Linked DNA regions of Homo sapiens. The protein of the gene in region 1 interacts with the protein of each later gene in a pairwise test. Each region holds a gene or a part of one and is shown on either strand. Other genes may lie near its edges.

Region 1 (7,692 bases):
CAGGAGTTCGAGACCAGCCTGGCCAACGTGGCGAAACCCCGTCTCTACTAAAAATACAAAAATTAGCTGGGTGTGGCAGTGTGCACTTGTAAACCTAGCTACTAGGGAGGCTGAGGCAGGAGAATCACTTGAACCCGGGAGGCGGAGGTTGCAATGAGCCTAGATCACACCACTGCACTCCAGCCTGGGCAACAGAGTAAGACTCCATCTCAAACAAAAAAAAATTACTCTTTGTTTCCTCCTCAAAAGTTAAAATGTATATATGATTCGTTATTATGTGCTAGTCATTAAGCTAATATTTTACATGCATCATTTCATTTAATTATCTCAAAAACCCTACGAGTCTGGTATTATCCCCCTATTACAGATGAGAAATCGAAGTTGGTATGTTTTCATTTGCTTGATAGATTTCTAATTTGCTACACAATTAATTTCAACTTTTTTTGAAGGTTTTTTTTTTTTAACTCTCCTGGTAACTCACAGAACATTTTTTAACAAAGATTTTTTTCCCCCTCTATGATGTTTACAATATCACAACATACCTACTATTCTTTCCTCATCTCCCCTTGTTAAAATCTGCTAACCCTTGTTCCTTTTACTCCAGATACCTATATTAGTTTCTTCTCCTTAGCCCAGCTCTCAATAACATTCAGTTTGGTGTAGACAAGCACCCTCCCCTGACCTACAATATAATTATATCCTTTTTAGGACTGGACAGCCATGCCTATGGTGTTGGTACTATTTTTTTTTTTTTTTTTTTTTTTTGAGATGGGGTCTCGCTCTTGTCACCCAGGCTGGAGTGCAATGGTGTGATCTCGGCTCACTGCAACCTCCGGCTCCCAGGTTCAAGCAATTCTCCTGCCTCAGCCTCCCGAGTAGCTGAGATTATAGGTGCCTGCCACCATGCCCGGCTAACTTTTGTATTTTTAGTAGAGACGAGGTTTCACCATGTTGGCTAGGCTGGTCTCGAACTCCTGACCTCTGGTGATCCGCCTGCCTCAGCCTCCCTGTTGGGATTACAGATGTGAGCCACCGCACCCAGCCGGTGTTGGTACTGTTTACCTAGAGTTTGTCTAAAAGACTGCCTTTGCTTTTTTGGTGGCAAAAAAATTTTTTTTTTCACCTAGAAACTGGGAGCCCTCTAAAGGCAGGGAAAGGAAACTGAAATATTCAATTTTGCACACTTAGTGCCTTGTAGGCTGGCAGAATCAGCAGAATGTAACGGGTACTATATTCAGGAGGACCTGAGTTTAAATCCTGTCTGTAAGATTTGGGCAATTTACTTATCCTCTCTGAGCCTCTTTTTTTTTTTTCATCTGTAACACCTACCTCACAGGCTTGTTGTGGGGATTAAATGAAATAATGCATGAATACCTACCACAATGTGGCAAGCAATGTGTAAGTGCTCAATAAATGGTGCCTATTATTACCGGTATTATAAATGTTTGTTAGATGACATGAAAAGTCATTTGGTACACATGACTATGAAGGTTTATTAAAAAGAAAAAGAAAAAGACCCTTGGAGAAAAAGTGTGTAGTTCTTCCAGTAGAAGCAGGGCACTATCTCTGGAGTAAAACTTCCGCTGAGCTCTCTTTCAAAAGAAATGGAGAAACAGCAATTATAGCAGCTCAAATTCTACAAGTCTGTAACTTAAGTTACATAAATTCTTTGCTGACCTCTGAGTCAATATCCACTATTTAGTCAGTATCTCTGAAAACAACTTTTAACTCTTCAATGCCACAAAGGCAAATTTTAAGACACTTGTTATAGAAGATGAACTAAAGAGCTCAAAGGAGTGCCTTTTTCTTTATTAGCCTCTTTGACAGGGCAGAGACTAGGTGAGTCCAGGGCTTCTCAACATTGGCACCACTGACATTTTGGGCTGGATAATCCTTTGTTGTGGGTGCTGTCGTCTACACTGAAGGATGTTTAGTGGCATTCTTGGCATCTAACCACAAGCCAGTAACACCCCCAACCCCCAACTTGTAAAGCCCCAAAATGTCTCCAGACAGTGAAAGACAAACTTTGCCCCAGTTGAGAACCACTACACTAAAGAAAGCATAACCTTTGAACCAATTCTGATGACTACTGCTTTTGGGAAACTGGATGGGTATGCTGATCCTTAACAGTCAAGTGGGAAATAAGGCAGTAGGTTGGGACTACAGAAATTCCTTATAGAATGGGGTGAAAGATGGGCACATGCAGAATGACAAACACAGACATCTTAGAAAACAGGAAGGGCACAAAGACATCGTCGAATGGAGAAATCAATGAATCTAAGACATCAAATAGAGAAATTAATGGGTCTGACCAGGCCTTGGGAAGCTCAGGATGCCAACTTACAGTTAGTGAGCAGTGTACTAAAAGTACTGGTTGTAAAGAGAACAGCTGAGCAGGTCAGAGGGCACCAACCTTGGAAGGTAGGAGATTGTGGTGCCACCACTGTCACTGGTTTGGTCATCGGAGCAGATGAGAAGGGGTCCTCAGGTGTGCTGAAGGCATTGGTGATCTGTGAGCACAGGGAGCTGATGCTCTCTGCCTCCCCTTCTACTTCTGGCACTGCAAGGCAAACAGAAAATGGCTCCAGACAGAAAAATGGAATAATCCTGAAATTTGACAGTATGATGCAAGCTGGCACTTTATACTGTATCTCCTGCTTATGTAAGAAAAGGCTCAATTAACTGTATGGCAGGGCTACAAAACCAGTTTCAAAAAATTTACTGGCCACAATTTCATTGGCTTTTCAGATGGGAAAGTATAAAATGTCAACAATTAATGTACTAAGGCACATCTTCCTCCCTTACAAATCCCCAAATTTCTTCATTTCTTCTTCTTATAACACTGTTGAGGATCTGTCCTTTTTGTGCCAAGATGTTCAGCTAGCCAGATCTTTGTAGAAGACATTTGCAACCTGTATGCCTTCCAACGTGTTCTCAAGACTGTGATCTGAATTAGGTTCTGGAGCCTTTAGTAATTCTGTCAGGAAAATGGGTTCAAGTCTGGGCACTAGTGGATGCTTAGTGCTTTTCTCTGTAACAAACTATGACAATGTCATCAATCTCATTTTTCTCCAAAGTCTCCAGTACTAAGCATATGATCTATGATAACATGAAAAAGTGAGCAGAGGTGTAGGACGCTAGGGCCTTTATTCTTAATACTGACTCTAGGATACTTCTGTATCACTGAGGAAGCTAATTATGTGTGCTAAAGCTCTGTTTGCTCATCTGTAAAGAGAATAATAGTTTTTATTCCCTGTCTGCCCTAGAAGGAGACTGAACTGAAATGAGGTACCTCAGCTGAGAACTGAAAAGACCCTCCGTAATCATCTAGTCCAACTATTCTTTAGGCCTAGTTTCATCTGTCAGATGAACTTAACTCTCTGTACTTTTATACCATCAGTAGGAATGGCCTATTGAGACAGTTTCCTCATATTTTGTTATAGCAATGGCTTGACATGTCTCAGAGGGAAGTAAAATAGAGCCCAACAAAAGCACTGACCAGATCTAATACTTTAGCTACAGATTTTATGACGAGGATAGACCTATAGAGGCTGGCATAGCTGTACAGAGGCCACACAAAGGCCTGTGAGACGGTTCTGAAAGGTAATGAATACTTGTGAACAAGTCCACTGTCTGTGATGAACAACAGATCTTAGATGTACACGAAAGACCTGTCTAGAGTTTCCTCCTTATGGAGCCAACCAGCCAGAAGGACAATGAGCACATATCCATTTCTTCTGCTGGTAATGCTATGTGTTTCTAAGGCCTCTTTAATTAATTCCCTGCTGGGTCCCAATGGCAGAATAAGAATAGAAACTTGAGACCCTTGATGTTTGGGAGCAGGTTGGCTGAAAGGCAGTGAATGCACTTACATCAGGACAAACCACAAATCTTATGGCTTAGGCTAGAAATTCCACAATGGCTCTGCTGCCTGTTTGTTGAAGAGAAATTATGGATTCACATCCCCCTCCACGGACCTTAGTTTTCCCACTATGGGAAATGACAAAAGATACAACTATCAACGAACCTCAGGGAAAGAGGAATGCCTAGTTTAATGGGATTAGTGTCTTCATGGGAAGTGATGAGAATGCTTCAGTGCTCGAGTACCCAGTGAGTCAGGTAGATGCTACATTACCTGCATTTTTAATGGGGAAATCAGTCTTCCTCTGCATAGTGGAAGGCAACTCATTGATGCGTAGGGATAGTTGGCGTTTAAAGGGTGACATCTTCTGGCTAAGAGCAGGAAAACCTCGGAAAGAGCCTTGGCGAGCAAGCTGTTCAATTGGAGCATGCCGGCGTGGGATGGCATGAGGATTGTTCATCTCCAGAGAGGTCGTGGCATCAGAAGTAGGAGAGGTGGGAGAGGATGGGGATGGGGCAGTGTTGCCAGGGGCAACTGATGAACCAACGACTATCTTATCTGTTTCAGCTCAAGAAAATAAAGAGAATGAAGACCTTAGCAATGTCTTCAAATAATTTGCGTTTAGAGAGCTGACAAATTCGAAAGCCCTCTAGGTCCTTTTACCCATTTCCTTCCCAGTGTCTCTTAAAACATAAGTTAGAAGCAGGGTTCGGATCCATTTTTCAGACAGATAAAAGGCTTAGTAATGTACTATATGTCACAAAGCATATCTACTAAGACAGAAATGTTAGATCTTTTATTCTCATTCAGTGATTTATAAATTAAGACTGTGAAAAAGATCTTAAAAACTCAGTTCCTATGAATTCCTAATATGTAGTCTTTTAAAGAATGATTCATGATTTTCAATGCTTGTGTGTTAGGGGAGGAGAACTTTGGGAACTGTAGCATTAGAAAGGTCTAAATAAGCATAAGCTTAACCATATATCTTTGATTAGGTGTCAAAGAATGTCATATATAACAGTCTTTATTTATTTATTTATTTATTTATTTATTGTTTGAGATGCAGTTTTGCTCTTTTTGTCCAGGCTGGAGTGCAATGGCACCATCTTGGCTCACTGCAACCTCCACCTCCCAGGTTCAAGTGATTCTCCTGCCTCAGACTCCCAAGTAGCTGGGATTACAGGTGCACACCACCACGCCCAACTCATTTGGTATTTTTAATACACACGAGGTTTTACCATTGTTGGCCAGGCTGGTCATGAACTCCTGACCTCAGGTGATCCACCTGCCTCCGCCTCTCAAGGTGCTGGGATTACAGGTATGAGCCACCACGCCCGACCTAAAGCAGTCTTTAAATCATGCATTTGTGGTTCATTTGAATAAAAGCATGCAGTAGTAAAATTTTGAACTGGATTAAATTTGAGTAAATGTAAGACTGTGGGTACCAGTTGAGTCCCATTCTGATTGTGACAAATCTCAACCACCAACTCTCACAATCCTTTGTAGATCTTGGGACTCAATCTCTTTGCAGTTGTTGTGCATAACAATGAATATTATTTGGTGGTATTAAAGAACATGCTTAATTAGTGAATAGTCTGAAGACCACTAAAGCATATTAGATAACAGTAATACAGGTTAAATTTTCTAGTACAGATAGCATGATTTTTCCCCCCTTTGGCTTCCTGGTGCAAATATTTACAAGAAATGAAAAAAAATCACTATCAATAATTTCATTTCAAATAAAAATATGTATGCTTTTTTTTTGGAGGGGGCTTAAGAATTAGAGCTGTTTGGGTCAGTATTAGTCAATGATGCTAACCAAAAGGGCTGGTTTAAGGTCAGGTGCGGTGGCTCACACCTGTAATCCCAGCACTTTGGGAGGCCAAGGCAGGCAGATCACCTGAGGTCAGGAGTTCAAGACCAGCCTGGCCAACATGGCGAAAGTCCATCTCTACTAAAAATACAAACATTAGCTGGGTGTGGTTGCATTCACCTGTAATCCCAGCTACTCAGGAGGCTGAGGCAGGAGAATCGCTTGAGCCCAGGAGGTGAAGGCGGCAGTCAGCGGAGACTGCGCCACTACATTCCAGCCTGGGCAACAGAACTACACTCTGTCTCAAAAAAAAAAAAAACACCGAAATCAAACCAAAACAACAACAACAAAAATGACTAGTTTAGAACTAAAAGGTTATAGTAAAAAAAATTATCATATATATATATTTGTTTGTTTTTAAGAGACAGGGTTTTGCTGTTACCCAGGCTGGAGGAGTGCAGTGGTATGATCACAGCTCACTGTAACCTTGTACTCCTGGGCTCCAGCAATCCTCTGGTCTCAGCCTCCCAAGCAGCTAGGATTACGGATGTGCACCACCAAATATGGCAATTTTTTTTTTTTTTTTTTTTTTTTTTTTTTTTTAAGGGATAGAGTCTATGTTGCACAGTCTGGTCACAAACTCCTGGCCTCAAGTGATGTTTCCTCCTCAGCCTCCTAAAGTATTGAGATTACAGCTGTAAGCCACTATACCTGGCCTCAAAATTATATTAATGTCTATTAGTTAACTTGAATTGTTTGTGCTTGTCTTGTTGGTTTTAACCCTACTTATATACAAGAATTCAAAAGTATTTTCAAGCCCTATCATTTAGTTGTAAAATATACCCAACTCACATTTATAGACTGCCAACTAACTTGAATGTTTGTACAGGCATTTCTGCTGTGATGCCATGTGTACCTAAATAAAACTCACACTCTATAAAATCACACACTAAATTAAATTAACAGGGCTATAGAAAAAAAGAGTTATAGGCTTACCTCTCAAAATCTATAGACTTTTGTGACTAGAAAGCACTAAAAAACAGCAATAATATCATATAAACAGTATTACTGTTAAATCTCTCTGCTAGCATCATAGTCCGTGGATGCTTTGCAGCCTTAAGCCCTGGGACCTCTGCTGCTTCCTTTAAGATGCAGGTACTTGATTCATTTGCTTCTCAAAGAGATCAGATACATCAGAATTAAAAAGGTATTTCAGGATGGGAGGAAGGGGGTAAGAGATGTCTCTGCAGCTTCTTCAACTGCACTCTGATTCCTCAGATAGCTTACTATAATGGAGTAAATATTTTTGAAGCCATTAAACTAGCCACTCTAAAGGAAGCGGTTTTTAAGATTTTCAACTTTGTTATAAGGTTTTATATTGCTAAGGGTTCTCTTTGATTATGAGAAAATTTACCCCTGGTAGCTTCAAAATAATACCTTGTTGGGAAAAACTGCATTCCATAAATACACACTGTAGAACAGATTGTACCTTTCTTGGCATCTTGCATTTGTTTCATGATCTCCTCTCTTTCTGCTTGTTCAGTGGCTGTTGTGACACGGAATGATCCTTCTCTTGTAAAAGTGGTCCGACTAGCATCAAAAGTAGCAGTCACTCCACATTCCTTCTCCCGCTTCTGCTTGCGCTCTAAACAGGCTGCAAAAGCACAGCCTACTGCATGGCTCAACCTTTCACCCTGTAAGAGCAGATTTTAAAAGCTTTTCAGAATTACACTACTAACAATTACATACAAATAAGTCTTTTGTTTTGTTTTGTTTTTGAGACAGAGTCTTACTGTTACCCAGGCTGGAGTGCAGTGGCGCAGTCTCTGCTCACTGCAACCTCTGCCTCCGGGCTCAAATACTTCTCGTGCCTCAGCCTCCTGAGTAGCTGGGACTACAATCACGCACCACCACACCTGGCTAATTTTTGTATTTTTAGTAGAGATGGGGTTTTGCTATGTTGGGCAGGCTGGTCTCCAACTCCTGGCCTCAAGTGGTCTACCCAATTCAGCCTCCC
Region 2 (7,692 bases), on another chromosome or scaffold:
AACTTGCTGCTGCACGAAGCGGCACGGAGGCACCCCACTGTCTCGCCACCTCACCTTTCAGGATGGGCCAAACAATGAATTTCTTATTCTTTTAGGAGAGGTCTGATTTTGATAAATTATTTCTAATTTAATATCACAGTGCATATCTCTCCTCTTGTCAAAGGTCTTCGTGATCATTTTAGTGAGAAGAAACAAAGAAAAGTGGGACAAACAAAGCTGCCCAGGACCTAGTGCTGGCAGCCGGCTCATGGTCCACATGCGGATCTGCAGTAGGGGTCAGCTGGGGGCCCTCAACCAGCACCCTGTTCCTAAGCACGTCCAGATGTATCCTCATATCCATGTCCCTTTTGGCAGCTTCCTGGTCAACCTGAACCTACCCTTCTGCACAGCCTCGGGTGGCTGCTGAGGGCAATGAGTGAGCTGGGGCCACGGGTCAGCAGGCAGGCAGGGAAGGGGGCTTCAGGAGGCTCATCTGGTTGGTCCGAGCCAGAGCCATCACACACAGCCTCCTCCTCAGCTTTATCTCTACAGGGACCTCTGCAACTCTGCAGCGGCCACCATGGACATTCTGCAGAAACCAGGCCCACTGGAGTCTGCAGCATGGCGCCAAAGGCAGGCCCAGCACATCCCATGAGCTACGGAGTGCGGGCAGCTCTGAGCCCTCAGCCAGCACAGGGACATCAGACCCGTTCCCCCTGCTCCCCTATGCAGGGCGCCACCCACAAGGTCTAGGACACGCAAGAGACTGACTTCCCATGGTCCACATGTGGATTCCGTAGTCTGGCTGCTGGCCTCCCAAGGGACCCACAATGGTCCACGTGTGGATTCCGTGGCCTGGCTGCCGGCCTCCCAGGGACCCACAATGGTCCACGTGTGGATTCTGTGGCCTGGCTGCCGGCCTCCCAGGGACCCAACCCTCCTGAGCCAGAGGGTCCCTCTGGTCCAGTCAGTCCTTCCTCCAGGGACCTAACGAATCTGGCTCTGCCTGAATCATCGATGACGGGGCAAAGGCGAGTGGGGCAGATGGGAGCTCTGGCAAACACAGGAGGAGGGGTCGTGGGAGAGCCCCCGTCCCCAGTAGCTGGGTGCTCACACATGCACAATCTACTCTCTGACTGTGGCTCATTGGGCTGGTCCTATCATCTGTGGTTCTAAAGGTCCAAAAAGGGCTATGGAAAGGACAGGTGTGCTGGAAGGAATGTGGAGAACGACCTCAAGATGGGAGGGGGGAGACTGGCCCCATCAATCCAGCTCAGAGCCCGGGAAAAGTGCAGGAACACAGACAAATAACCCCAACACGGCGAAGGACACACCTCCGAGAACCAGAACGGCAGCGTCCACACGACGAGACGACCAGGCGAGAAACACCGCGGAGGACACGGTGTCAACCTCGGAAGGGGCCTCCTATGCTTTCCACACCAAATTCTCCCACGGGAGAAACCCTGCCACAAGGCCCAGGAAACCACAGACCCCCAAGCCAACCATGCCCAGCACAGACACCAAGGAATGACAGTGACGCCGGTGACGCCAGGAGGACGCGGCCCCGCCTCTCTTCTGGCAGGTGAGATCAGAGTCCTACTGCAGCCTCAAGGCTGGGAGCACAGAGTGTGGACCAGACCCCGAGGCCAAGACGGTAACACAGCTCTGCCAGGCAGCACCTGCCTCCGGCCCCTCAAGCACAGGTAGGAAAGGGGCAGCCCCCCTTCTCCTCGCCCACCTGACCGGCTGCAGTCACCCCTCACTGGACCAACCTGACCGACAGCCCTGAGGCAGCTCCACCGTGCAGTTCACGCGGTCATGCCGCGGAATGTCCACAACACAGACATGGAACAGAACCCCATACATGCTATTAAAAAAGGGAAAAAAACAGAAGACCGTAGCTACACTGCTTTAAATACTGCATGCTACGCACTTCGTGGGTCAAGGGTCGACGCTGGGTGGGCGTGGAGGCAGGAGGGGCCCCAGCAAGGCCAGGGCAGGCAGGAGGCTGCCTTCCCATCTCTGTGACTACAGTTCATGATTCTAAGGTTGGCGTGGCCAGGCGCCGGCTCCTCCTCTGACCACAGCTCCTCCTGGATTTAGTTGAACCCGTCAGTGTGGTAGCTGGGGTGGGAGTCGGCTGTGAGCTGGGTGGTCTCGGTGGCGGATGCCGGCTGTATGACGATCGGCGTGTCTGTGGCCTCTGAAAAGCAAGCACACAGGGCACTGCACGAGGGCCACAGCCTGGCGCGCACCCAACGCTGGTCCTGTGGAGCGACTTTCGGGCACCTGGACAAACTCTCCACCGGGAGAGGCTACTCGCTGACCTCCACCCCACACGGCTTTCCTCCGTCGCCTTGGGTCACCGCCAGCCCTCGGCCCTCAGCCCCGCCCCAACTGCCTGCCGCCCTGCCCCGCCTCGCAGTCCCTGGGATCTACGGCTACCGCAGGTCACGGCGGGGACAGCTCTATGCGCCTGCTTTACCTCAGGGTCCACGTTCACACCTCAACAGTCCCAGCTGCCACCACAAACACTCGCGGCACAGTGTCAGTGCCCTCCTGTTTGACAAGACAGGTTGACACCATTCAGGGCCCATTCTGGCTCTGCCCCACACACACACACGGGCCCTGGGGCGGGCACTCACCCCTCTCGTCAGACTGCAGCTGTGCCTCCAGATCCTCGGGGGACACGTAGAACTCCGTCTCCTCGCCTTCAGGCGCCTTGGGCTTACACTTCCCGCAGCAGCAGTTGAAGCAGCAGCACAGACAGCAGCAGCAGTAGCAGCACGTGAGGAGGCCGCAGAAGACAAACAGGGCCTGGGGGGAGAAGAAGGTGGTGTTGCATGGCCTCCGAGGCCCCTGGAGAGGGAGGCGCAGGACTCCCAAATGCCCTCAGCAGAAGGCAGGGGGTGCGTTCCAGGTGGGGATACTGCCTTCCAGACAGGAAGCAGAAGGAAAGAACTGAAGAAGGGAGGAGGAGAGACAGAAAGAAACCCGCAGCTTAAAGAAAAGCAGCCTCCAAGACGGGCGTGGTGGCCCATGCCTGTCATCCCAGCACTCCAGGAGGCCGAGGCTGGCGGATCACGAGGTCAGGAGATCGAGACCATCCTGGCTAACACGGTGAAACCCTGTCTCTACTAAAAATACAAAAAATTAGCTGGACGTGGTGGCGGGCACCTGTAGTCCCAGCCACTCGGGAGGCAGAGGCAGGAGAATGGCGTGAACCCGGGAGGTGGAGCTTGCAGTGAGCCAAGATCGCGCCACTGCACTCCAGCCTGGGAAACAGAGCGAGACTCCGTCTCAAAAAAAAAACAAAGCAGCCTCCAGGCTGGGCACAGTGGTTCACGCCTCAACTCCTGCAGTTCTGGAGCTGAAGTGGGAGGATCACTTGAACCCAGGAATTCAAAGTTAAAGTGAGCCAGGATCTCACCACAGCACTCCAGTCTGGGCAACAGAGCGAGACTCTGTCTAACATTAACTAAATAAAAAGTACTTTATAAGGATTCTAGTGAGGAGGCCGACCAGTCAAAGCCAAATACAGGCTTCTCACAAATGCCATGCAGTGATTCCAACCCTCTGGCCTCATATATGACATTTGGAACAAAACGAGGAAACGAAGAAATGCGGATGTAACATCGAGGCTTATTTCCTCCTGTCTCACGAAGGACTGGGAGCCATTTACAGAAGAAACCCTGGCGGCTCCGCACGGCTCTTCCCTGGGACAATCTGTACGCTATGGCTTGTTCCAGGCAGGACACCAAGCCAGTGACAGAGCTTCGCCCATCACACAGGTGAGGAGAAAGGCTCCATATGCCCAGAAGCCTTTTCTCAGGAGTGTAGAGTTGCTGGCATCAACGCATGGGCTCTGCAATGCTGGGAACCCTGCAGGCGTGGAGTGACCCGGGTGCCCACATGGCAGGAGAGACTCGGGTGCCCGCACGGCAGGAGTGACTCGGGCGCCCGCACGGCAGGAGTGACTCGGGTGCCCGCACGGCAGGAGAGACTCGGGTGCCCGCACGGCAGGAGAGACTCGGGTGCCCGCACGGCAGGAGTGACTCGGGTGCCCGCACGGCAGGAGAGACTCGGGTGCCCGCACGGCAGGAGTGACTCGGGTGCCCGCACGGCAGGCAGCTCGCCCTCACCTTGGCCCACCAGCTGGACAGCACGAAGTAGGTGTTCACGTTCTCTTCCCCAAACTGCTCGGCCACGTAGAGACCCAGCGAGCCGTACTTGTCGTAGATGTTCCTTTTTGTGGCGTCCGTGAGGATGGCGTGCGCGTTGTTGATCTCCTTAAACTTGTCCGCGGCCTCCGGGTTGTCGGGGTTCTTGTCGGGGTGATATTTCAAGGCAAGCTTCCTGCAAACCAAAACCATGTCCTGGCTCTACCCTGGACTTTGTTCCACCCGCACCCGCCGCCGCGTCCATCCCACCCGCACGCACTGCCGGGTGCAGTGGAAGGCAGGTCCACCCAGGCCACCTCACTGTCCGACTCTCCAGGGCTGCAGGGGCCAGGGACAAAAGCAAGCTCCGCGGTTGTTTCAGGTAAACCTCCTCACCCTGACCCAGCCTCAGAGGAGGGAGCCCCAAGGGCTGTGAGTGCCACGGCACATCTAAGTTCAGCGGCACCAAGGCCAGCCCTGGTGTCCCAGCCGCTAACTGCACAAGTGCCAAGTGAACGGTAAGCACGGCGGGGCGTAATGATGGCACTTTAAGAAGTGTTTTATGAACTACACGATGCTAGCACACGAGAGGAGGACTATCTGAATTGTCTGGATTAGTGATGGTGTCTCTTACAGGTTACTCAATGAAACTGTACCCAAGAGTGCAGTTCTTCAAGCTCAATCAGAAGGCCACAACAGAGTGAGGGGTCTCTGTCATCACTGTGCTAAAACAAGGAGACCACAGGACCATGCCAGCGCTCTGCGGCTCCTGTGAGGCCTCAAACAGGTTCAGACCCTGACTCCCTATGGAACTGTGGACAGTGTGTCAGTTTCTACTAAGTGCTATTTTTTGTTGGCAAGAGAACATGAATACCATAACTTTAAGCTATAAGGAGCACATTACACATACAAAGGTGTTACCGAGCTGTGACCAGTTCAACGCTGAGTCGGCCAGGATAAAGTATGTGCAATGGTTCTTGGTAAAATGCAGACTAAACCACACGGGGCATGTGTGTCTTCCTGGGGGGATGTGGGGGCCACACTTGTCCACTTACCGATAGGACTTTTTAATGTCATCTGAGGTTGCGTTCTTGTCCAACCCAAGGACGTGGTACAATGACTCCCCAGAGGTAGACAGTGAGCGCTGTCTCTGGTCTGCCATGTTAGGCTATTCTAGAAGAAAAAATAAAAAGAAAGTATCACAAAGTATAGATGAAAGTACCAAGGGCAGAGCTGATGGACTTTATTCCATAAGACCGTTCAAAGCAAAAGAATCCAACACTGCCTTGTGGAGTTTGCCACGTGCACAGACAGACGCCATGGCATGGAGAAGTGTGAGACGGCAGAATACGGCCACCCCAAGAGATCCTGAAGAACTGCAGCTGTGTACTGTGGGCCGGCACAGGGGCTCACACCTGTAGTCCCAGCATTTTGGGAGGCTGAGGCGGGAGGACCGCTTGAGCCCAGGAGTTTGAGGCTGCAGTGAGCTATGATCACTCCACTGCACTGGAGCCCAGGAGACAGGGACCCTGTTCCTTAAAAACAAATATATAAATAAACAAAATAAATTAATTAATTAAAATAAACATGCATATTGTAATCCTTACAGCAACCTCTGCATAAAAAATGCAAAGAGGTATAAGCTAAAAAGTTACAAGAAAAATGAAAAAGTAACTCAACACAGGAAACAAATAGAAAATTAGTTGGAAGATCTAAATCCAAACATATCAACAATTAAATTCAATGTTAGTGGACAAAAAACTCCAATTAAAGTAAGGGACTGACAGAATGGATAAAAATGCAAGACCCAACTTTAATTTTAATACTTTCTCAGAAATCGACAGAACAGACCAAAAATCAGGAAAAACATCGATGTTCTGAACAACACTATCAACCACCATGACCTGATCTTCACAGAACACCCAACATCTAGAGAACACACAGTTTCTTTCTTTCTTTTTTGGGGGGGGGGACAGTTTTGCTCTTGTTGCCCAGGCTGGAGTGCAATGGCACGATCTCGGCTCACCACAACCTCCGCCTCCCCGGTTCAAGCAATGCTCCTGCCTCAGCCTCACACAGGAGTAGCTGGGATTACAGGCATGTGCCACCACACCCAGCTAATTTTGGTATTTTTAGTAGAGATGGGGTTTCTCCATGTTGGCCAGGCTGGTCTTGAATTCCCGACCTCAGGCTGAACTCCCGACCTCAGGTGATCCGCCTGCCTCAGCCTCCCACAGTGCTGGGGTTATAGGTGTGAGCCACAGCGCCTGGCAAATACACATTGTTTCTACATTGTTTCTAACTAATCAACCACCATGACGTGACAGTCACAGAACACCCAACATCTAGAGAACACACATTGTTTTTAACTGAATGCTGTACACTAAGACAAGCCACATGTTAGGGCTTCAAGCTGGTTTCAATAAACGTAATGGAATGAGGTCACACACAGCACTATCCCTGACTTAGCTACAAACTGGAAACCCAGGAGGAAGATACTCTTGATATTCAACAACACACCTCCGGCTAACATGTAGCTCAAAGAAGAAATCCCAGGGGAACTTAGAAAATGTTTTGAATTGAATAATAAATACAGTGTACATGACGGTTAATTTCATGTCTCCTTTGCTGCATCGTGGGGCACCCAGATGAAACATGACTTCAGGGTGTGCCTGGGAGGGTGTTTCTTGGTAAGAGCAGCACCTGAGCTGGGGGCTCCATGAAGCCAACTGCGCTGCCCTGTGCAGGTGAGTGTCGTCCCAGTCCACGGGGGTCCCGAATAGAAAGGGGTGGGAGGAGGAGTTGGCCTGGGTTTTCCTTCTCGCCTGCCAGCCTGAGCGGGGCCACGTGTCTCCTCCTGTCCTTGGACTGTTATTATCCCACTGCTTTCCTCAATCTTCAGCAAATGGCAGAGCATGAGATTCCGTCTCCATAATGACGTGGGCCAATTCCTCATAACAAATCTCCTTTAGAAAGAGACACAGATAATGGCAACGTTCCTCTGCAGAATGCTGACTAGTACAACACGTTAATCAAGGCCTAAGGCTCCGCCTCAGGAAGCTACAAAGTAACAGGATAAACCCAACATAAATGCAAGCAAGGAAATCATAAGGAACAGAAATCCATGAAAACAAACAGATAACTTCAACAAAGCCAAAAGAGTTGGTTCTTTGAGCAACATGAGGAAAGACATCACTACAGATCCTAGAGGCGTGAAAAGGATAAAATACGAACAACTTCATGCCAAGAAATTAGAAAAATTAGATGAAATGGACAAATATCTTGAAAATTACAATTTACCAAGACTGACATGAAATAGAAAATCTGAATAGGCCTGCATCTGTTAATAAAGTTATATTTGTAATAAAAAATCCCCAGAAGGCCAGGCGCCGTGGCTCACGCCTGTAATCCCAGCACTTTGGGAGGCCAAGGCGGGCAGATCACGAGATCAGGAGATTGAGACCATCCTGGCTAACACAGTGAAACCCCATCTCTAATAAAAATACAAAAAAATTAGCCGGAAGTGGTGGCAGGCACCTGTAGTCCCAGCTAC
Region 3 (8,264 bases), on another chromosome or scaffold:
ACAAACGACTCCTAAAGCACTGCTTTATGAGTCATTTCTCTTAAATCTACCACTCCCTGTTACCTACACAATTAGTTCAAAGCTCTCCATCCAACCTTGATAATCTGGCCTCAATTAAACATTATTCCACAAAGCACCTCATATAGTGGCTACCCAGCAGTCCTTCAATAACATATCCAGTCTCTCCCTTTCTATTCTACTGCTGTCACCCTGGTTGGATGTCCATGACCTAGCACCCAATCCAGACCACTGAAAGAGTGTCATTCCTTACCCTTTCTGCCACTCAAAGTCAAAAACTTTTCAATGGGTCTCCATTGCTTGCTGAAATATCGTTATCTGCTGCCCTTCTTCAGAGTCTTTCCCAATATGGCCTCTTTCTAATTTTATATTCTGTTATCCCGAAAACACTAGTCCTTGAAAAGGCTCCTACACTTTCCACTTCTGATCACTTTTCTCTGCCTGGAAGCCCTCATAATTCCATTCCCCTCACTCCACCCTAATTTAAAGTCCATCTGAATTAAGTCAAAAAGCCTTTCTTGGTCATACCTCCTTAGCATTTCATAACACTTGGCACCTCTCCTATGGCATACATTATACCTTATGTTATACATGAGCACTCCTATAATTGACAAGATCCTCAAGAGCTTCTTACTCCTCTTCTGATGCCTGCAATGCCTAGCCCAGTGTTAAGTAGAGAACTAAGCATTAGATATGAGCTGCCCCAAATGTTTCCCACTTAGAAAGCAATGGAGGACTGTGTTTTCAGACAATCCCAAACTCCCTTAAGGGAATTAAGCACATATTCTCCTTTTGTCTCATATTTCTATGTCTTAGACCAATTTTTAAGTAAATTGCCTTCAAGATATCTAGACTGCTATTTAGTATACATAACTGTAAGAGTTCTGCTCCAGGGAGTTCCAACTTGTAACTGAACCCTGAATATTTAAGCTCTCTCTTTATGCCAAAAGACAATGGAAATTTATTTTTTGAATGTTAATAAAATTGAGCAAAACATAAAAATAACTTGCACTGAATTAAACATGTTTGAAGTAAAGATTCATTAATGCTAATGTGTCTGTCCTAAAAATTACATTTCAAGTTCTAAAGTCTTTGTGTACCCATTAAAAAGATTGAAAGTTTTATTTCAACTCTTTCTCACCTCAAAGACAAACTAAAATAGAACAGAGAAGGCTTTTCCTTAATTTTATTTAGATCCTAACTTGAAGGTATACTTTGTTATTTCTTCAAAAGGAGCAAAAAGAGTATGATTAATGAGCATGTTCTGACCAGATCTCTAAGTCCTACTCCAAAGCTGTAACAGGAGAGTACCATAGACCACACTACCAGCACCCTTCGTTAGCAGACCACAGGCTTTGTTTTGTATCTCCCTGAGCTAAGAATGGCTTTACATTTTTGTGTTTTGTAAACACAAGAAGAAGAATATGCAACAGAGAGCATATGTGGCCAGCAAAGCCCAAAATATTTACTATTTGTCCCTTTTCAACAGGATGAATTTGGGACTCCTCGTTGCCCTTCACTGGCACGTAAGACATCCCACCTTTAAAAAAGCAATGTAAAACACAAGACCATTTAAAAAGATCGAACTCGTTCAACTTAGTCATAGTTAATGCAGACTTAACTTCTAAAACAGAGACCTGTGTGTGGACATTTTTATTCTTCACAGAATTTTTGTTGGAAGAAACTTGCCTTCATTCTGTGGATGAACATACTTATGCTTGAAAATGGAAAGTGCCTGACCCAAAGTCACACTGCTGGTTAACAGCAGAGTAGGGTCAAGGACCCAGCCTTCAAAACCCTGGTCCAATGCTTTGCAGTCCACTACATACACCTATACATGTGGCTTTAAATTTTGGAGATGTGGATAACTAGCTTGGATCAATATAAAAGATGAAAGCTTAAAACCTGTTCCTAACATACTGTTTAGACAGACTCCTACTAGCAGCTATGAATCATTAAACAGAGTAGCATTAATGCTCACCACATACATTAGATAAGAACTTCTAGGAAGTCCTCTGTTTCAAAAGCAGATATGATAAAAAAAGGCTTTAAACCTACAGGGTTTGCTCCTCCAGGGCTTCAGATTAGGGCAAATAACGCACTTCTGCCTACCAGCTGTTCAATACTCATCTCCCAACCCAAATCCACAAGTTCCACAAATGCTTTCGAATGCCTGTTGAAAAACATTGTTCAGTCTCATCACATACACACGTTCTACAGATAATTACAACTTCTTGTATGCCTACTTGTAAAACTACTAAGTAGTTCACATTTTAAAAAATTTCCCTAAGAATTTTGCTTCCTTTAAAAAAACTGCTTCTTCGATTCCTAAATCTATAGAACTCACTTTATCACGTCTTCTCGGTTAATCCAAGAATTAAAAAAACCATTTTGCCCATACTGATAACTTTACTACTCTGCAGGATCCGAAAAGCTCTCTATATGCCAGGTTCTAGGATTCACACACATTAACAACCTAAGATCCTTCAAGTGAGATAGCTCTTGCAGTACAGAGCACAGATTCTCAGGGTCGTGGGGGATACCGGCTGAGGCTCTTCAGACCCCCACCACAGGAGTTCCGTCCTCTAAGGGCAACCCCCTCCCCCTTGGCCGCGGCGCGAGTCCAGGCCTCCCGGGCACCTGCGGCCCCTGCCCGCTGCGGGGACCCCCCGAGGAACCAGCCCCCCGCCGGGCCCCAAGGAATCGGCGCCCACTCCCACTCCTGGAGGCCAGTGACTGCAGGCCTAAGCCGCCCGCCGGCCCCGGGACGCGACGTTACCTGTAGGACCACGTCGTTCGGCAGCTGCGCGGCCCGGAACAGCTCCAGCACCCGCCCGTTGACCACCACCTTCTTGGTGCTCTCAATGTCGCAGTAGGAGAAGAGATCTGAATAGTATTTCTGCTCCGCATCGCTCAGCGTTAAGCCTTCCATCTTCGCCTCCGGCTCACGGCCGCCCCGCCCCGCATGCACTACTCGGGGCCCGGCCCCAGGAACCTGGGCCGGCAGGGGCTGCGCGTGGCCCGGCCTCCTGCTAGCTTCCCGAAAACGCCGGCCCCGGCCTCACACGCGCCAGGTGCGCCCGAGCAACAGGGCCCGGAGGTCGCGAGGAGGGGGCCCGGCTGCGCTCGCCGCGCCGCTGCCTGCGAGGCCCGGCGCGCGGCTGCGGCTGCGGCTGCGACTACGGCTCCGGCTCCGGCTCCGGCTCCGGCCGCGGGGAGGGTGCAGAGAAAGAGGCGGGGGCCGCGGAGGCGCGAGGCACTGGCGGACTCCGCCCCCGCCGCGGGTTCGAGTCTCCCCGGCTCCCTGCCGATTCCCCCAGACTTCCCGCCTCGGCTTCCCCTTCCGTCCACGCCTCCGGAGCGGCAGCGCTTCCCGGAAAGTTGTGGGGCTTCGAACCTAAAGTTTCGGGGGATCTGGGCTGAGCGTGGCCGCCGCTCCGCCTCCCTCCGCCGCCATTTACAGTGCCCCGGCCCGGCCCCGACGCGCCCGCACCAACAGTGACAGCGGCGGCCGCGCTCCAGACCCGGATGTGAGGCCGGGAGGAGAGAGCGCGAGAGGGAGAGAGAAACACCCACCGGGCTGGCTTGGCCGCTCCCGGGAGAGGGAGGAGGCCGCAGCGCCCCCTGGTGGCCGGCGCCCGGCGGCGGGATGACCGAGCCGCCCTCTGCGCGGAGATCTCAGCAGCAAGACCCCCGGAAAGGGGGGTGCAGTGGGAAACAGCCGGCAGCTCATTAAGACCGAGATAACTAAGATCCGGGTTGCAGTTTTTATGTTTCGCAGTTTCTGGTCCTAAGCGTCTGAATAATTGGATTGAAAGGGGAGCCTTGTTCAGGTTATTATCATTCTATCTGTACCTTTTCGGTACAGATGAAGATAAATGCAGTATTTCCATCTGTTCTGAAGGGCTATGAACATCCGGGCTATGAACATCCTGGCTATCCGGGAAGCCTCCACGTAGACACCAACATTGAGGCTTCATCTCACTCGTGCTTCAAGCCATGTTTACCTGAGAAACAAAATGTGCTGAATAGAGGGGAAAACTGGCAAAGTTGTCCTCTTTGTTCACCAGGTCATTCCGGTCACTGGGAACTTAATACTCTACATTTATACCTTCAACTCTATCAACTCATGTAGGCCCGGGGCTGCCCACAGGGGCTGCCTTCCGTATTTTCTCCTTTATGAAAATCATGGAGTGGCGCTCTTTTAATCTGCACCTGTCCCAGAGAGGGGATTCTTCAGCTATTTCAAGTAGAATATCTTAAGAATTTATACTTAGCAAATATAAAATACTTCAAAGACGGGAGCTAAGGCAGAATTACCCAGAGTTCTGGTTTTTATTTTGTCTTCTACAAGTTGTTTCCCAGAGTGCGGATCCTATAAATGACACATATGAGGAAATTATTACAGGTTCCCAGTCATTTATCTGTAATTGCAAAATTCAAAGCGCACTGAAAACCCAAAGACTTTTTTTTGTAACCCTTTGGAAGTAAAACCTGCCCTGCCTCATTTGGAGGCAAAATCTAAACTAAGCTTGCATGAAGCTATTTCTAGCCTTTATGGATCCCACTTAGTGTCAATATTTACTCATTTCACTCCAGGTCTTTGTAGAATGTTAATATGTACACAGTCACAGGCATTCTATTATCTTTCTATTTTTTAAGAAAGATAAGGGATTTTAGACCTGTCAATGTCTTCTGACTTGACTAGTAGTATTTGATAAAGGTAAGTATATACTATCCATTAAGCTTATTTCCCATCTCTAAGACTTTCAGTTTGCTACAGCAGCCCCTCATGTGTCCTTTCAGGGCACCTGCAGCAAGTGATCAGACCCCCCCCAGACAGCTGCCTTCCAAAGGTGTAAACAGAAAGAGCACAATGGGGTAGGGATTGGCTCACAATTGTCTTTGCATCTTTTTCTCTGCCACCTCTCCTAGGCCTTGCAGCTCTTGTCGGCCCCAGGGCCTTTGTTCCTGCCATCTAAAATAGTCCTTCCACAAACCATGGCATGGCGTATTCTCTCATATGGTTTCAGGTCCCTGCTCATATGTCACCTCCTCAGAGCAGCCTTCCTGCAACAGCTGCTGTAAAATAATCCCACCATGCACTATCCCCTTATCTGAATTCCTTTTTTTTCTCTTTTGAGACAGAGTCTCCCACTGTCACCCAGGCTGGAGTGCAGTGGCATAATCTTGGCTCACTGTAGCTTCGACCTCCCAGGCTCAGGTGATTCTCCCACCTCAGCCTCCCAGGTAGCTGGGACCACAGGCCCAGGCCACCATGCCCACCTAAATTTTGTGTATGTGGCTTTTGTAGAGACAGAGTTTTGCCATGTTACCCAGGCTGGTCTCAAACTCTTGGGCTCACCCACCTCAGCCTCCCAAAGCGCTGGGATTACAGGCATGAGCCACTGCACCCAACCTGAATTCTTTTTCTTTATAACACTTTTCACTATCTGACATTACATATATAGCTGTTACATTTTTAACGGCTAATTATTGAATAATTACTAAGTTTCAGGCATTGTTCTAAAGCTTTACACTAATAACCACATTATTCACAACAACCCTATTAAGTGGTACTACTAGGTTTTTTTTTTTTTTTGACAGATTAGGAAACTGAGGCAAAATGGGTTAAGTATTGTGTAAGTCATGTTGCTATTAAATACCCGGATCTGGGATTCAAACTCCAGGCTGTCTCAACTCTAAAAATCACTACCCTATCTTGCCTGTCTAATTTCTTTGTTAAGTTTGTTATTAAGAAAATATTTCTTCACCAGGCATGGTGGCTTATGCCTGTAATCCCAGCACTTTGGGAGGCTGAGGTGGGTGGATTGCTTGAGCTAAGGAGTTCAAGACCAGGCTGGGTAACACGGTGAAACACCATCTCCACCAAAAATACAAAAATAGCCAGGCATGATGGTGTGCACCTGTGGTCCCAACTACTCGGGAGGCTGAGGTGGGAGGATCACTGGAGCCCAGGAGATAGAGGCTGCAGCGAGCAGTGATTGTGCCACTGCACTCCAACCTGGGAGACAGGACGAGACTCTGTATCAAAAAAAAAAAAAAAAAGAAGAAGAAGAAGAAAGAGAGAGAGAAAGAAAGCAAGCAAGCAAGAAAAGAAGGAAAATATTTCTTCATTGCCACAGTGCCAAAGCCCAGTATGTGACACATAATGTGTATCAATAATAATTTGTTGAATGAATGAAAGCATCAATTTTGACATTGATGTGATAAGCCATTCAATACAGTAAGTCCTCAATTAATGTTATTGTGGATAGGTCCGTGGAAACTAATTTTAAGCAAAACAAGGTATTCTAACCAAGTAGTTTAGCTTCAAAAGAAAACTTTTTTCTTTTCTCCTTTCTTGCCAGTCTCAAGCTGTAACCTTGAAACAAACTGTAGAAACCTTTTCTCTTTAGTCTTAAAATATAGCCTTGAAACATACTTTGAAACTCCACTCCCTTCTATTTCCCACAATGTACTCCCTTACCCAATGCACATTTATCTAACTGTATGCTTCTTAAAAATTCCAGGGGCTAATTTAAAATGAACTAGGCACAAAGGCCCAGCTGCAGAATTGTCCCCCACTTAAAGATTGCCTCAAGATAGATAATCTGCAGCCTGGCCACAGGCGAGATGACGCCAGCCTGCATTTTAGATGGACCATAACTCAAGATAGGCGTTGAAGCAAGACACACAGCCCGGGCTCCCGGCACAACTCTTGCATGTTTCCCATATCAAGGTTCCCTTTTTGAAACCTCTGCCTTCAGCCCAGACTTTTGAAGCAGTTTCCAGAGGTGTAAGCTGGCTGTTTCCCCACTGCTAGCTTTGAAAAATAAAGTCACTTTCCTTTCACCCCTTGTTATTGGGTTTGCAAAGGGCAAACAGCCAAGGCTGCACTTGGTTACGGTATCACGAAACCAATTTTATCATAGGCTAATTGATAATTTGCTACAAACAAGAGTTAAGTTGCTGTGACATATTTCTGGTCACAGAATCACCAAATTTCTAAATCGAGACCAAAACACTTCTAATATTAAACATTTAAGTAAAGGTAAGCTACACATGCAACTAAAATGATTAACTAAAAAAAAAATAACTACTTACCCTATTTTTGGTATATTGGTGAGTTACCACGGTTGTCCTGGTGGTGGGTTAAATCAAGGAATAAATGTCTGCAAAGTGAAGTTCAAAATCATCACAAACATGGTGGCTTGCTGAGCTCTCTGGCACCACCTTGTTTACTGTTTTGCATCTGTATGATCATCATATGCTTTACACATTTTTATTTTTCAGTCACTTATATTCATTCATTTTCCTACCTACTTATTCCATTTCGGGGTTGTGGGTAGCAAGAGCCTATCCCAGTGGCTCATGGGACAGGTAGAACCCAGCCCCTGTCTAGGATGTGATTGCATCACAGGGTATACACACACACACACACACACACACACACACACACACACACACATCCACACTCACTCAGACTGGGACCATTTAGACACCCTGACTTATCTAATGTGCACATCTTTGGGATGTGGAGGGACACCTGAGGATTCAGAGAAAACCCACACAGACATAGGGAGAGCATGCAGACTTCACACAGACAGTGGTGCCTACGGGGAATGCATTTATTTTTTCTCATCAATGTTATAATGAAACAATGTTGCTATTGAAGGACCTGTTACCTTCTAATCTCCTCCTAGTTTTGCACCCTTAACCTTAGAAACCTCCAGCACCACTCCTCTTTAGCAACCCAAAGTAATTATAGGATTGCTTCACTTCCAAGTTCTGGAACTCTGAAACTTCTTTCTCAGTCCATAACATGCTGTCCTTTCACTCTCACGTTCCAGTCCTCAAATAAGCATGCACCCTAGGCTGGGCGCGATGGCTCACACCTGTAGTCTCAACGTTTCCGGAGGCTGAGGCAGGTGGGTCACCTGAGGTCAAAAGTTCGAGACCAGCCTGGCCAACATGGCGAAACCCTACCTCTACTAAAATTACAAAAAAAAATTTAGCTGGGCATGGTGGTGTGCGCCTGTAATCCCCACTATTCAGGAGGCTGAGGCAGGAGATTCGCTTGAACCCGGGAGGCAGAGGTTGCAGCAAGCTAAGATCACACCACTGTGCTCCAGCCTGGGTGACAAGGCGAGACTCCGTCTCAAAAAAAAAAAAAAGAACAAACAAACAAAAAATACTTGCTCCTTGATATGGTTTGGCTGTGTTCCCACCCAAAATCTCATCTT

The links. Proteins that work in one complex are often made in the same cells at the same time.
Region 2: the proteins of NUMB (region 1) and DNAJC5 come close enough for resonance energy transfer, tested with the Homo sapiens proteins (one study listed by BioGRID).
Region 3: the proteins of NUMB (region 1) and REPS1 interact in binary tests that used the Homo sapiens proteins (3 or more experiments, as listed by UniProt).

Annotation. Positions count from the first base shown.
Region 1 is NC_000014.9:73,279,946-73,287,637, forward strand, and holds part of NUMB (protein numb homolog), read right to left. Parts: intron 7,370-7,692; coding exon 7,165-7,369; intron 4,430-7,164; coding exon 4,136-4,429; intron 2,561-4,135; coding exon 2,414-2,560; intron 1-2,413. UniProt on the Homo sapiens protein: Regulates clathrin-mediated receptor endocytosis. Plays a role in the process of neurogenesis.
Region 2 is NC_000020.11:63,925,955-63,933,646, reverse strand, and holds part of DNAJC5 (dnaJ homolog subfamily C member 5), read right to left. Parts: intron 7,476-7,692; exon of another isoform or gene 6,660-7,475; intron 6,346-6,659; exon of another isoform or gene 6,325-6,345; intron 5,313-6,324; 5' UTR 5,302-5,312; coding exon 5,195-5,301; intron 4,336-5,194; coding exon 4,122-4,335; intron 2,797-4,121; coding exon 2,625-2,796; intron 2,183-2,624; coding exon 2,079-2,182; 3' UTR 1-2,078. UniProt on the Homo sapiens protein: Acts as a general chaperone in regulated exocytosis. Acts as a co-chaperone for the SNARE protein SNAP-25. Involved in the calcium-mediated control of a late stage of exocytosis. May have an important role in presynaptic function.
Region 3 is NC_000006.12:138,984,733-138,992,996, forward strand, and holds the start of REPS1 (ralBP1-associated Eps domain-containing protein 1), read right to left. Parts: upstream 3,522-8,264; 5' UTR 2,951-3,521; coding exon 2,798-2,950; intron 1-2,797. UniProt on the Homo sapiens protein: May coordinate the cellular actions of activated EGF receptors and Ral-GTPases.